Regions from separate parts of the Homo sapiens genome. Here region 2 is linked to region 1. Evidence: fine-mapped QTL for protein levels in blood plasma. A gene starts in region 1. The other region holds a variant in brackets. All regions are shown on one strand. Distances are from middle to middle.

Region 1 (5,365 bases):
AAGTTTAACCCTGGGTACACCACAGCTAGCTTGCCCGCATTTGCTTAATAACTGTAATCGTCACAGATGCTATTACCTGCGGCCGCTTATCATTCACAACCTTTCCCCTGCATTATTTCATTTAATCCTGAGCCAACATCGCCAGGCAGGCACCGTGCTTATTCCCATCCCACAGGTGAGAAAACAGGCTCAGAGAAGCCAAGCAGCTCCTCTGAGGTCGCACAGCCAGGAGGGTGGCAGCGGGTCTCCTCCAGGGCCTCTCTACTAGGCTGGAGGCTGTCCTCGGTCACCTGCACCATCTGGCCTGACTCTGTCATTAGCTCAGGTGTGAACATCAACTCCCACACCTGTCATTAGGAACCCGGGCAACGGGAGCAACGGGGTTCACACCCTGTCCCGGCCCTCCCCAGCTTCAGCTGCTAAAAGGCAGACAAACTGGAAGGGGTGGCTTTCTCGGTGGGGTGTTCCGTTCACTAATCCACACTTTGTAGTCCAAAGGCCTGACTACCTTGGGTATGAAAGTCACCACTTGGGGCTCCTGGGTCCCCTGGGCTCGGAAAGGGCTGCTACCCTCATCCGGGCACCTCCTGTGTGCTACAGCACTGCTCCTCCCAGCAGCCCTATGCATGAGACACTCAGTATTACCACCCGTGCTGTGCAGAAAGGGAAAACAAGGCTTCGAGAGGCTCCAGGGTGGAGATGCCAGGATCAACAGTGAGGCATTCTGCTCTCAGTGCTGGAGCTCCTACTGCCCCCCATGCTGAATCTCACCAGCAATTTTGTCCTCCCCCAGACAATGGAGCGGGCCCCTGGAAAACTCAGAGTGAAGGAATAACTTGGGGATCCACTCCCTGTGACCAGCGACCACAGCCTAGAGCCGCAAGTCTGTCCCCTCCACCCCCCCACCAAGACACTTGCTATGGGGCTGGCTGGGCATCAGGCAATGTTCAAGAGATGCGTTTGAGAGGATGGGGTACAGGGCTACCCCCACCCCACAATCCAGTCTGCGAACTAGTCCCCACTAAGGGGAGGGGGCAGAGGGATGCACTGGGCTTGGAGACCACCCGGGGAGGCATCTGACATCTGCTCAGGGCTGTGGCTGTGCTCATTCTGTGCTGGGGTGGCAAGGCTCAAAGGAATGGTCTTGCACCCCAGGCTGGGGAGAGAATCAGGAGGGCTTCCTGGAGAAAGAGACGTCTAAATGGAGATCTGGGACCAATGGCTATCAGCCTAGGACAGACCGTGGCTGCCTTGGGCCAGATATACAGAGAGTGGCAGGACCCCAAATCTTTGCCACCCCAGACCCTCCCAGTCCCTGCAGCTATAAAGGATGGGATGCCTTTCATCCTCATGCTTCTGGGAAAGCCCGCACCCCTCCCAGCTTGTCTGGGTTCATTAGAACCTTTTGTTAGGTCCAAGCTGGGGCCTTCAGGATGGAGAGCTGCACGAAGGAGGGAGGCTGGGAGGAGGCAGAGGGCGGGGCGAGGCCTGGCCCCACCACTGGTATGTGGGTGTCTGCATGTGTGAAGGACTGGATGGGTCTAGTCTCTGGGGTGGAGAGGACAGAACGGTTCTCCACGGCTGGCACGGAGCATCCAATTGTGCAATGCCCCAGGGAACAGTGCAGGGACTGGACGGGCCTCTGGTTGGGTCTGAGTGCCAGCTGGACGCAGCCATGGAGGAGGGGTGTGCAGGCCCTGCCCAGTCTCTGGGGTTGTGAAAGATAGGGGAGGGGTGGGGAAATCTCTAAAGGCGGGTAATGCCTCTGAGCTTGAAAGAGCCCAAACGGAGATACGGGTGGGTGGGATCACAGGGCAGGGGGGTTTCTGAAAGGGCTGGAAGGCCCCGGAATGGAGTGTCGCACTCCAGCGTGCTAGGGCCCCGCCGCCTGCACCTGTCCGACTGGTCGGCCTAGGCCGGACTGCAGGGGTTGAGTGGGAGCCCTGGGCCCAGAGGCCTCTCCTTGCCTAGGGAAGAAGTGAGGAGCTGCTTGAGGGCACAGTGGGGGCTCCCAGTGAGAGCAGCTTGGGGGCAGAACTCCCAGACAGGAGAGCCATGTAATGTGCGGGCCCCTCACCTGCCTGAAGCCTCTTGTCCGAGAAGCTGGCAAAATGGTCCTTGCTAGCCCAGAGCCCCCACTCTATTTTCCGAAGTGGGGATATAAGGCAGGGGCTGGATTCCCACCCCCTCCGTCAATCTCAGCATCTCCACCAGGCTCCCCTAAACCGGTTATTAAGTGAACACATTAGGCTTATCAAAAGGGACGTGGGCTGCTTCTCCCTGCAAACACATCAAGACATGCCATTCCCCTCCCAGGCCGCCCTGGGAACCCGCGGCTCAGAGACGCCGCCAGTTTCGGGGCTGGGGTGGGGGCAGGGAGCCACACCCCTGCGAAACCGAGCTTCGAAGAGGAGGCCCCGAAGCCGCCCAACCTCCGCTCAGAACCCAGAGGGTGGGGAGGTAAGGGGGTGCCTCCCCCTGTGCCCCTCGACCCGACCCCACACCCCCCAGGGCCTCCGGGCGCGGCTCTGGCGCGCAGGGTGGCAGGTGCCGGGAAGTGCAGCGGCGGGTGGCCCGCCCCCTCCGGACACCCATCCCTCGCCTCCCCGACGCCAGGAACACTTGCGCGGTCTCAGAGGCGCTGGAGAGCGCCCCCCGACGCCAGCTCAGTTTCCCTGCCTCAGGGCGCCCCCTGGACGGAGCTTCCTGGGTCGCCCGCAGCGACCCCGCCTTGAGTGCCCGGTCCTCCAAAAACTCCGCCCCCTCATCCAGGTGACTATTCCCGGTCCTGTGCGACCCTCTGCGCAAGAGCGACCCTGGGACACGGGGGTGCCCTGTACCCCCAGCTCAGCTGCCCGTGCCCTAGGCCCTCAAGGCAATGCTCCCTGGGCTCCCGGAGTCCCCTGTGTTATGCTCCCCCTCGGGGACCCCAGCCAGTCCCTTCCCACCTGGCGGCGCTTCCCAGCTTCAGGGTGGCCTCGGTCCCGCGTTCCCGAGAGTCCCGCACTCCGGGTTCAGTTCCCGGTTCCTGGACCCCCGTACCCCCCATTCCTACACTGCCCGGGAGGTCTTCCAGGTCCTGTGCGCCCACAGGGGCAAGAGCGTCCCGGAGCGGAGCTGTGGGCGCCTCCTCACCTCCGGGTCTGCACAGTGGGGCTGTATTTGCCTTTGTTTCTCTTCCTGAAGAGCGAGTTCATGGTGGCGCTCGGGGTGCGGGCGGCGGCGGCTGGCGGGCCGGGCGCGCACCGAGGGGCGGGCGGGAGCGCAGGTGAGCGAGCGGCGGCGCGGGGAGCCCGGACTGCGGCGCGGCAGTGGCTCCGGGTCCCTACTCGCTGGGGGCGGGGCGCCCGCCGGCCACTGGCTCTGCGGGCCGCTCCCCGAGAAGGTGGTGCTTACCTTCCCGAGGAGGGGCCACCGCGCGGGCGGGGCTTGGACGCGGGGGTGGGGACACTGGGTCTTGGCCGGACGCCGCCCACCCCCAGCCGGGGGACTCCGGAGGCCGGGCAGGCACTGGGGCGCAAAGGCCGCCGGGGCGAGCGCTCGCAGCCCCACCCTCCTCGGGCCCGGCGCGCCTCTGGCCGAGGCCTTCACCTGGTTCTGCGCTACCGCGGAACTCGGCGCTCCTGGTGCTTTGGCGGACACCCAGCTGGGCCCCGCAAGACAGGTGCGGCAGAGACCCGCACGGATTCATGTGCCCTAGTAGCTAGCGAATTGCACTCAGATGGTGGCAATTGAGGGAAGGGGGCTGAACTGCCGAGGGCGCCGGCCTGAGTTCAAGCCCTGCCACCCCCAGGTTGGCTGACACTCCTGGGCAAGGTGTTTTACTGCTCCCAGCCACAGTTTACTTCTTTGTCAAACGGTGATAACCACCACCCCATCCGAAAGGCCTGTGGGGATGTCCCTGCAGGTAATGCACGCAAAGCGCTGAGCGCAGTGCCCTGGCCTGAATCTGCTCTCCGCTTGCCATCTCGGGTGGACAAAAACTCCTTTGAAACTTCAATAACTCCAGGCCCTGGCACTAGAAGAGCGCTTCATAGCTGGTCATAAAAGCTGCTCGATTGCGGCTCAGAACAACGACGTTGCACAATTCTGCCAGCATGTCCTGGCCCAGACTGTGTGCCAGTGGAGGAGGCTGCCCTTAGACAGAAACCTAATCTGACCTGAAGCCCGGATGGCACACACCACCACACCTGGCTAATTTTTAAAAATTTTTGTAGAGGCAGAGTTTCACCATGTTGCCCAGGCTGGTCTTGAACTCCTGTGCTCAAGTGATCTGCCGGCCTACAGCCTCCCAAAGTGCTGGGATTACAGATATTAGCCACCGTGCCCAGCCAACCTTATTCTTAATGGGGCTTCTATGGGTGGGCTTAACCCATTTATGCCTGAGGTTGCAATTTTTTGAATTGATAAATCATACCTTGGCAGTGACCTTGAGCAGTAGGAGATAACTCCCACAGGCGTCACGTTCCAATAATGGACCACTAGGCGTAAATAGAGGTGTGATTCCTCCTAAAGTTGTGCCTGCCTGCCTGCCTTCCTTCTTTCCTTCCTCTCTCTTTCCTTTCTTGCTTTCTTGCTTTCTTTCTTCTTTCTTCTTTGAGACTCAGTTGCCCAGGCTGGAGTGCATTGGCACAATCATAGCTCACTGCAGCCTTGACTTTTGGGGCTCAAGCAATCCTCCCACCTCAGCTTCCCGAGTAGCTGGATCCACAGGTGTCCACCACCACGCCTGGCTAATTTTTAAAACCTTTATATTTATATATGTTTTTTGTAGAGATGGGGTCTCGCTGTGTTGCCCAAGCTGGTCTTGAATTCCTGGGCTCAAGCAGTCCTCCCACCTTGGCCTCCCAAAGTGCTGGGATTTCAGGTGTGAGCCACTGCACCCAGCCCTAAAGTTGCTTTCAAAATGTGTGTGTCCAAATGTGCATTTTTCTGGGGGAGGATGTATTGCTCAGTGGAGTCATTTACTCATTCAACACATGTTTCCCATCACTCTCACAGCCTCAGTGTGCCTGGCTCTGCTTGTTGTACACGGATGAGAAAAGGGAAAAGAACAACACAAAAGGGGCTTTCTCTTTGGGAGCTTTCAGGTCCCGGGGCAGGGGACACATATTAAAAATGTTAACTTGGATGGGCGCGGTGGCTCACTCCTGTAATCCCAGTACTTTGAGAGGTCGAGGCAGGGGGATCACCTGAGGTCAGGAGTTCAAGACCAGCCTGACCAACATGGTGAAACCCCGTCTCTCCTAAAAATAAAAAATTAGCTGGGCGTGGTGGCGCCTGCCTGTAGTCCCAGCTACTTGGGAAGCTGAGGCAGGAGAATCTCTTGAAACTGGGAAGGGGAGGTTGCAGTGAGCTCATATCA
Region 2 (5,365 bases), 13 kb after region 1:
CTCCATCTCTCCATCCCTCCATCTCTCCTTCCCTCCCTCCCTTCCTTCCTCCATCCATCCATTCATCCATCTCTTCATCCCTTCATCCCTCCATTCCTCCATCCATCCATCCATCCATCCATCCATCTCTTCATCCCTCCATTCCTCCATCCATCTCTTCATCCCTCCATTCCTGCATCCATCCATCCATATCTTCATCCCTCCATTCTTCCCTCTCTCCCTCCCTTCCTCCATCCATCCATCCATCCATCTATCCATCCATCCATCCATCCCTTCATTTGTCAAATATTTACTAAGCACCTGCTACGTGACAAGTCCTGTTCTAGGCACTCAGGATTCAAGATCAAGTACAATAGACTCAGGTTCCTGCTCCCAGGGAGCTTGCTGTGGGAGACAGGAGTGGGAATGGACAAACAATGTAAGTTTGAGGTCCCCTTGGGTGGATCATGGCGCCTCTTCTGTGTGCCCCAGGAGACAAAGTCTGCAGTCGGCACAGAGTCACCGTCAGGTGGGGGCCCAGGGACACTATGAGGAAAGTGGCCAGACTCCAGTCTGAGGGTGGTTGAGGACCCGGTGAGGAAGGGGAGGCCTTAGCTTGCAGGGCGTCAGGTTCCCTCATCGTGTTTTCTGCATCACTGACATTTCCCAGGAGCCAGGCTCCTCCCCAACCCCCGTGGAGGATCTCGACCTCTTGCCCCCACAATACCTCCCACAAGTCACTCATCCATTTATTGAGCACCTACTGTGTACCCGGCTCTGGGGATATAGTAGCAAACACGATACATCCCTCACATCCTGGGGGCCCCCTGTCTTGGAAGGGAGGAGGGACAGAAAAGCAAACAGATAACCACATTTTTTACAAATGAAATAACCTAAGTGCCCATCAGTGGGGGAAGCGGTGGTAAATTACAAAACTGCCCTAGTCTGGGAGGAATTCGGGGAGGCCTGTGGGCCTCACAGGGAAGCTGAGGGTGTAGCAAGTGAAAAAAGGAAGCTGCCTGCTATTAGGTGTCGTGTTTTGCCATTTCCGCTTCAGAACGGAGCTGCCCTGTGTCTCCGTGAGCTCGTCCTCCACCTGCCTGCCTGCCTGGCTCTGCCTCCACTCTTTGTTCACGCTCTCTGCTGAGCTCAAACATTCCTGCTGGGCCCAGGCAGCCAAGCCCCCATCAGCCGCCTCCCAGGCCATTCTCTAATCACAAGCTCAGGCTTAATCCCCACACACGCCCAGGACTCCGCTCTGGGCAAATACTCCTCCTTTCAGCCCTGGAGTCCCTGACCTCCCGCTACCCAGACCATCCTGTCCCCTGTCCCCAGCCAAAAGGCCCCCCTCCACTGGTTGGGGGTGGGGAGACCTCAGTGTAGCCTTGTCCAATAAAACTGCCTGTGACAATGGAAATATTCTGTATACATGGAGGCGGCAAGCCACATGTGGCTACTGAGCACGTGAAATGTGACTAGTGCAACTGAGGAATTGAATTGTTAATTTTTAAAAATTCATTTTAATCCATTAATTTATTTTTTGTAGAGATGGGAGATTCTCACTGTGTTGCCCAGGGTGCCTTGAACTCCCGAGCTCAAGCCATCCTCCGGACTAAGCCTCCCACAGTGCTGGGATGACAGTCGCCTGCCGCCACGCCCAGCCTGAATTGTTAATTTTATTGTTTATGTGTATTGTTATTTATGTAAATATAGAGCATATTCATATTTACAGAATTTAATTAATGCAAACGTAAGTAGCAGCGTGCATCTGGTGGCTGTCGCAGGGTCCACCTGGGCCCAGGCATGGAGAAGAGGACAGCTCGGGTCCCTGGTCCTCTTCTTGGCAGGGGCAGCCTAGAGGGGCTGGGTGGCAGCTGAGGCCTCAGGCACTGAGCTGGGGGGTCCCTGGAGTCGCTGTGTTGATGGGGCTGAGCTTTGGGTGTTGGTGCCTGTGGCCCCTCCCCAGCGGCCAGTCCCTTGTTCTGACCCCTGCTTGGTGGTCAGAATCACACACTGAGAGCTCCTGAAGACCTGAGCTGACCTTCAGGTGGGACTGTCCGGCTCCAATGACAAGAGGTCGTTTTCCCCAGGTTCCTCTGTCTGCATCCGCTCCACGGATGCGCTCTCTAGGAACAGCTTCCCCTTCCTGGTTCTCCTGGGTCTCCCTTTCCATTCCTACAGCATCTACCTGGGCAAGAGATCTAGGGTCTCACCCCCTCACCTCCAGATTCCTGAGGTCACTTTGGTGGCCTCCCTCCTCCTGGCTCCTCCTCCGTGCTCTCTGCACCCTTCCCCCTCCTCCACCGTGGTCAACTACAATCTATTCCCAACACAGCAACCAGAGGGCTAAAGTGAAGTCAGCAGACTCCCCTGTCCCATACCTCCCAGACACTCTGAGTACCTCAGCATCAGAGCCAGATAACCCATGAGACCCCCTCCCTCAGGCTCCCCTCAGAGTCTGCTCTCTTCCCCGCCACTTCCCTCCCACTAACTCTACCCCCGATACACTGACCGCCTCCCCAATACTCAAACACGCCAAGTATGCTCCTGCCTCAGGGCCTTTGCATCGGCTGCCCCCTTGGCCCCACTCTCTACGTGGACCCCCTGCTCTTCTTCCAAGCCTTTGTGCCAAGTCACCTTCTCAGCGCAGCCCACCTGGTCCCTACATTGTAATCTGCCCTGCACTTCCCACCCTCTTTCCCTGCTCACCAATCATGGCACTCAGTGCAATCTAACCCACAACAGAAGCCACTCACGGATACAAAAAAATAAGCCAGGTGTGGTGGTGGGCGCCTGTAATCCCAGCTACTCAGGAGGCTGAGGCAGGAGAATCGCTTGAACCCGGGAGGCGGAGGTTGCAGTGAGCTGAGATCGCGATTCTGCACTCCAGCCTGGGTGACAGAGTGGGACTGTGTCTCAAAAAAAAAAAAAAAAAAAAAAGGGGAGTGAAGGCCTGACATGCGCTTCAGCATGGTTGACCGTGAGCACATTAGGCTCAGTAAGAAAAGCCAGATACACAACGGCACATATTATACGATCCTGCCTGTGAAATGTTCAGAGGTGAATTCGTAGAGATGGAAAGGAGACTGTGGCTGCTGGGGAGAGGGGAGTGGCGAGTGACTGCTAAGGGGCACAGGTGATGATAGTGCTCTCAAATTGACCATGCTGATGGTTGTGCAACTCTGAAACTACCAAAAC[C/T]GGCTGGATGGCACTCTTTTTTTTTTTATTTTTTTTTTTGACAGGGTCTTTCTCTCTCTCTCTCCTTTTTTTTTTTTTTTTTTTTTTTTTTTTGAGATGGAGCTTTGCTCTTGTTGCCCAGGTTGGAGTGCAGTGGCGCGATCTCAGCTTACCGCAACCTCCGCCTCCCAGGTTCAAGTGATTCTCCTGCCTCAGCCTTCCTGAGTAGCTGGGATTACAGGCATGCATCACCACGCCCGGCTAATTTTGTATTTTTAGTAGAGACAGGGTTTCTCCATGTTGGTCAGGCTGGTCTTGAACTCCCGACCTCAGGTGATCTGCCCACTTCGGCCTCCCAAACTGTTGGGATTACAGGCATGAGCCACCACGCCCGGCCCCTGTTTTTTATTTTTACTTTTTTTTTTTTGAGACAGAGTCTTGCTGTGTTGCCTAGGCTGGAGTGCAGTGGCACGATCTCGGCTCACTGCAACCTCTGCCTCCCGGGTTCAAGCAATTTTCCTGCCTTAGCCTCCCAAGTAGCTGGGAGTACAGGTGCCTGCCACCATGCCCGGCTAATTTTTTTTGTATTTTTAGTACAGATGGGGTTTCACTATGTTGGTCAGGCTGGTCTTGAACTCCTGACCTTGTGATCTGCCTGCCTCGGCCTTCCAAAGTGCTGGGATTATAGGCGTGAACCACCTCACCCGGCCTTAAAATTTTTTGTAGAGACTGGAGCCTTACTATTTTGCCCATGCTGGTTTTGAACTCCTGGGCTAAACTGGTCCTCTCTCCTTGGCCTCTCAAAGGGCTGAGATTACAGGTGTGATCCCCTGTGCCCAGCCAAGGGTATTGCTGTACTGCTGAGGCTGGAGTGCAGTGGTGTGATCATTGCTCACTGCAGCCTGGAACTTCTGGCCTCAAGCAATCCTCCTGGCTCGGCCTCCCAAAGTTCGGGGATGATAGAGGTGAGCCATCAGACCCAGCTGAATTGCATACTTTAAATAAATGAATTCTGTATCTCCAAAAGGCAGAGTTATCACCTTCCTATACTGTGTTGGCCACCCCCTCAAATGTCCAACGTCAAGTCCTCACTCCCCTTCACCCTAAATTCCCGTGGGAAATGCCCCTCCTTCTAAGCCCGCACAGTTACAAACATGTACCCGGGTCCTCTGGTGGTCCCTGTGCAATTACTTTTCCTCACGCAATTTCCACCAACCTTCAGGATAACACTATGGTTAACCCCATTAAAAAAAAAGTTTCCAATGTGATTTTTTTTTTTTTTTGAGACGGGGTTTCACTCTGTCACCCAAGCTGAAGTGCAGTGGCACAATCTCGGCTCATTGCGACCTCTGCCTCCAGGTTCAAGCGATTCTCATACCTCAGCCATCCGAGTAGCTGGGATTATAGGGGCCTGCCACCACGCCTGGTTAATTTTTGTATTTTTTTGTAGAGACAGGGTCTCACCATGTTGTCCAGGCTGGTCTCGAACTCCTGACCTCAGATGATCTGCCCACCTTGGCCTACCAAAGTGCTGAGATTATAGGAGTGAGCCACTGTGCCTGGCCTCAATGTGATTTTTTAAAACAAGGCTAATCAGGTGAAGCAGTGGGAGTGGAGAAAACAAAACAAAACAAAACAAAACAAACACATCTGCAACGGGTTGAGACAATTAGTTGTAAACACCACTGCACTCAGACCAGCTCCTGTTATTTTTTTTATTGCAGTAAGATATATATAAAACATTGCCCATCTTAATTAATCATTTTTCAGTGTGCAGTTCAGTGGCATTCACATTATTGTGTAACCATCACACCATCCATCTCCAAAACTCCTTTTTTTTTTTTTTTTTTTTTGAGAGTCTCGCTCTGTTGCCCAGGCTGGAGTGCAGTGGTGCAATCTTGGCTCACCATAACCTCCGCCTCCTGGGTTCAAGCGATTCTCCTGCCTCAGCCTCCCGAGTATCTGGGATTACAGGTGCGTGCCACCATGGCCGGCTAATTTTTGTATTTTTAGTAGAAATGGGGTTTCACTATGTTGGCCAGCCTGGTCTCAAACTCCTGACCTCGTGATCCGCCCGCCTCGGGCTCCCAAAGTGCTGGGATTACAGGCGCGAGCCACTGTGCCCGGCCCAGAACTCTTTTCATCTTCTAAAACCCAAACTCTGTGTCCATTAATTAACTCCCCATGCCCCTCCCCCCAGCCCCTAGCC

Direction of the effects. Positions count from the first base shown, and alleles are read on the strand shown. Strength reflects both the effect of a copy and how common the allele is.
For the plasma level of the protein whose gene starts at base 3,300 in region 1, T is the high allele of the variant in region 2 and C is the other (moderate association).

What was found. A credible set is the group of variants that fine-mapping cannot tell apart. PIP is the chance, under the fine-mapping model, that this variant and not a neighbour inherited with it causes the effect. Protein levels are from antibody-based Olink assays in UK Biobank. Linkage for the fine-mapping came from a reference panel and not from the study's own genotypes, which makes the PIPs less certain.
Region 2: its variant is the best candidate, but not a certain one, in a credible set for the plasma level of the PPL protein (UK Biobank, PIP 0.72).

What each region holds. Positions count from the first base shown.
Region 1 is chr16:4,933,849-4,939,213 of GRCh38, forward strand. It overlaps PPL (periplakin), which reads right to left and starts at 3,300. Exons shown (of 22, transcript NM_002705.5): 1 at 3,136-3,300. The coding sequence starts at 3,197. RefSeq lists a silencer at 3,243-3,642.
Region 2 is chr16:4,947,034-4,952,398 of GRCh38, forward strand. No RefSeq gene overlaps it. Among named protein-coding and RNA genes, the nearest start is that of SEC14L5, 8.6 kb to the right of the region's middle. RefSeq lists an enhancer at 779-1,536. The variant C/T (reference allele first, on the strand shown) is at 3,178.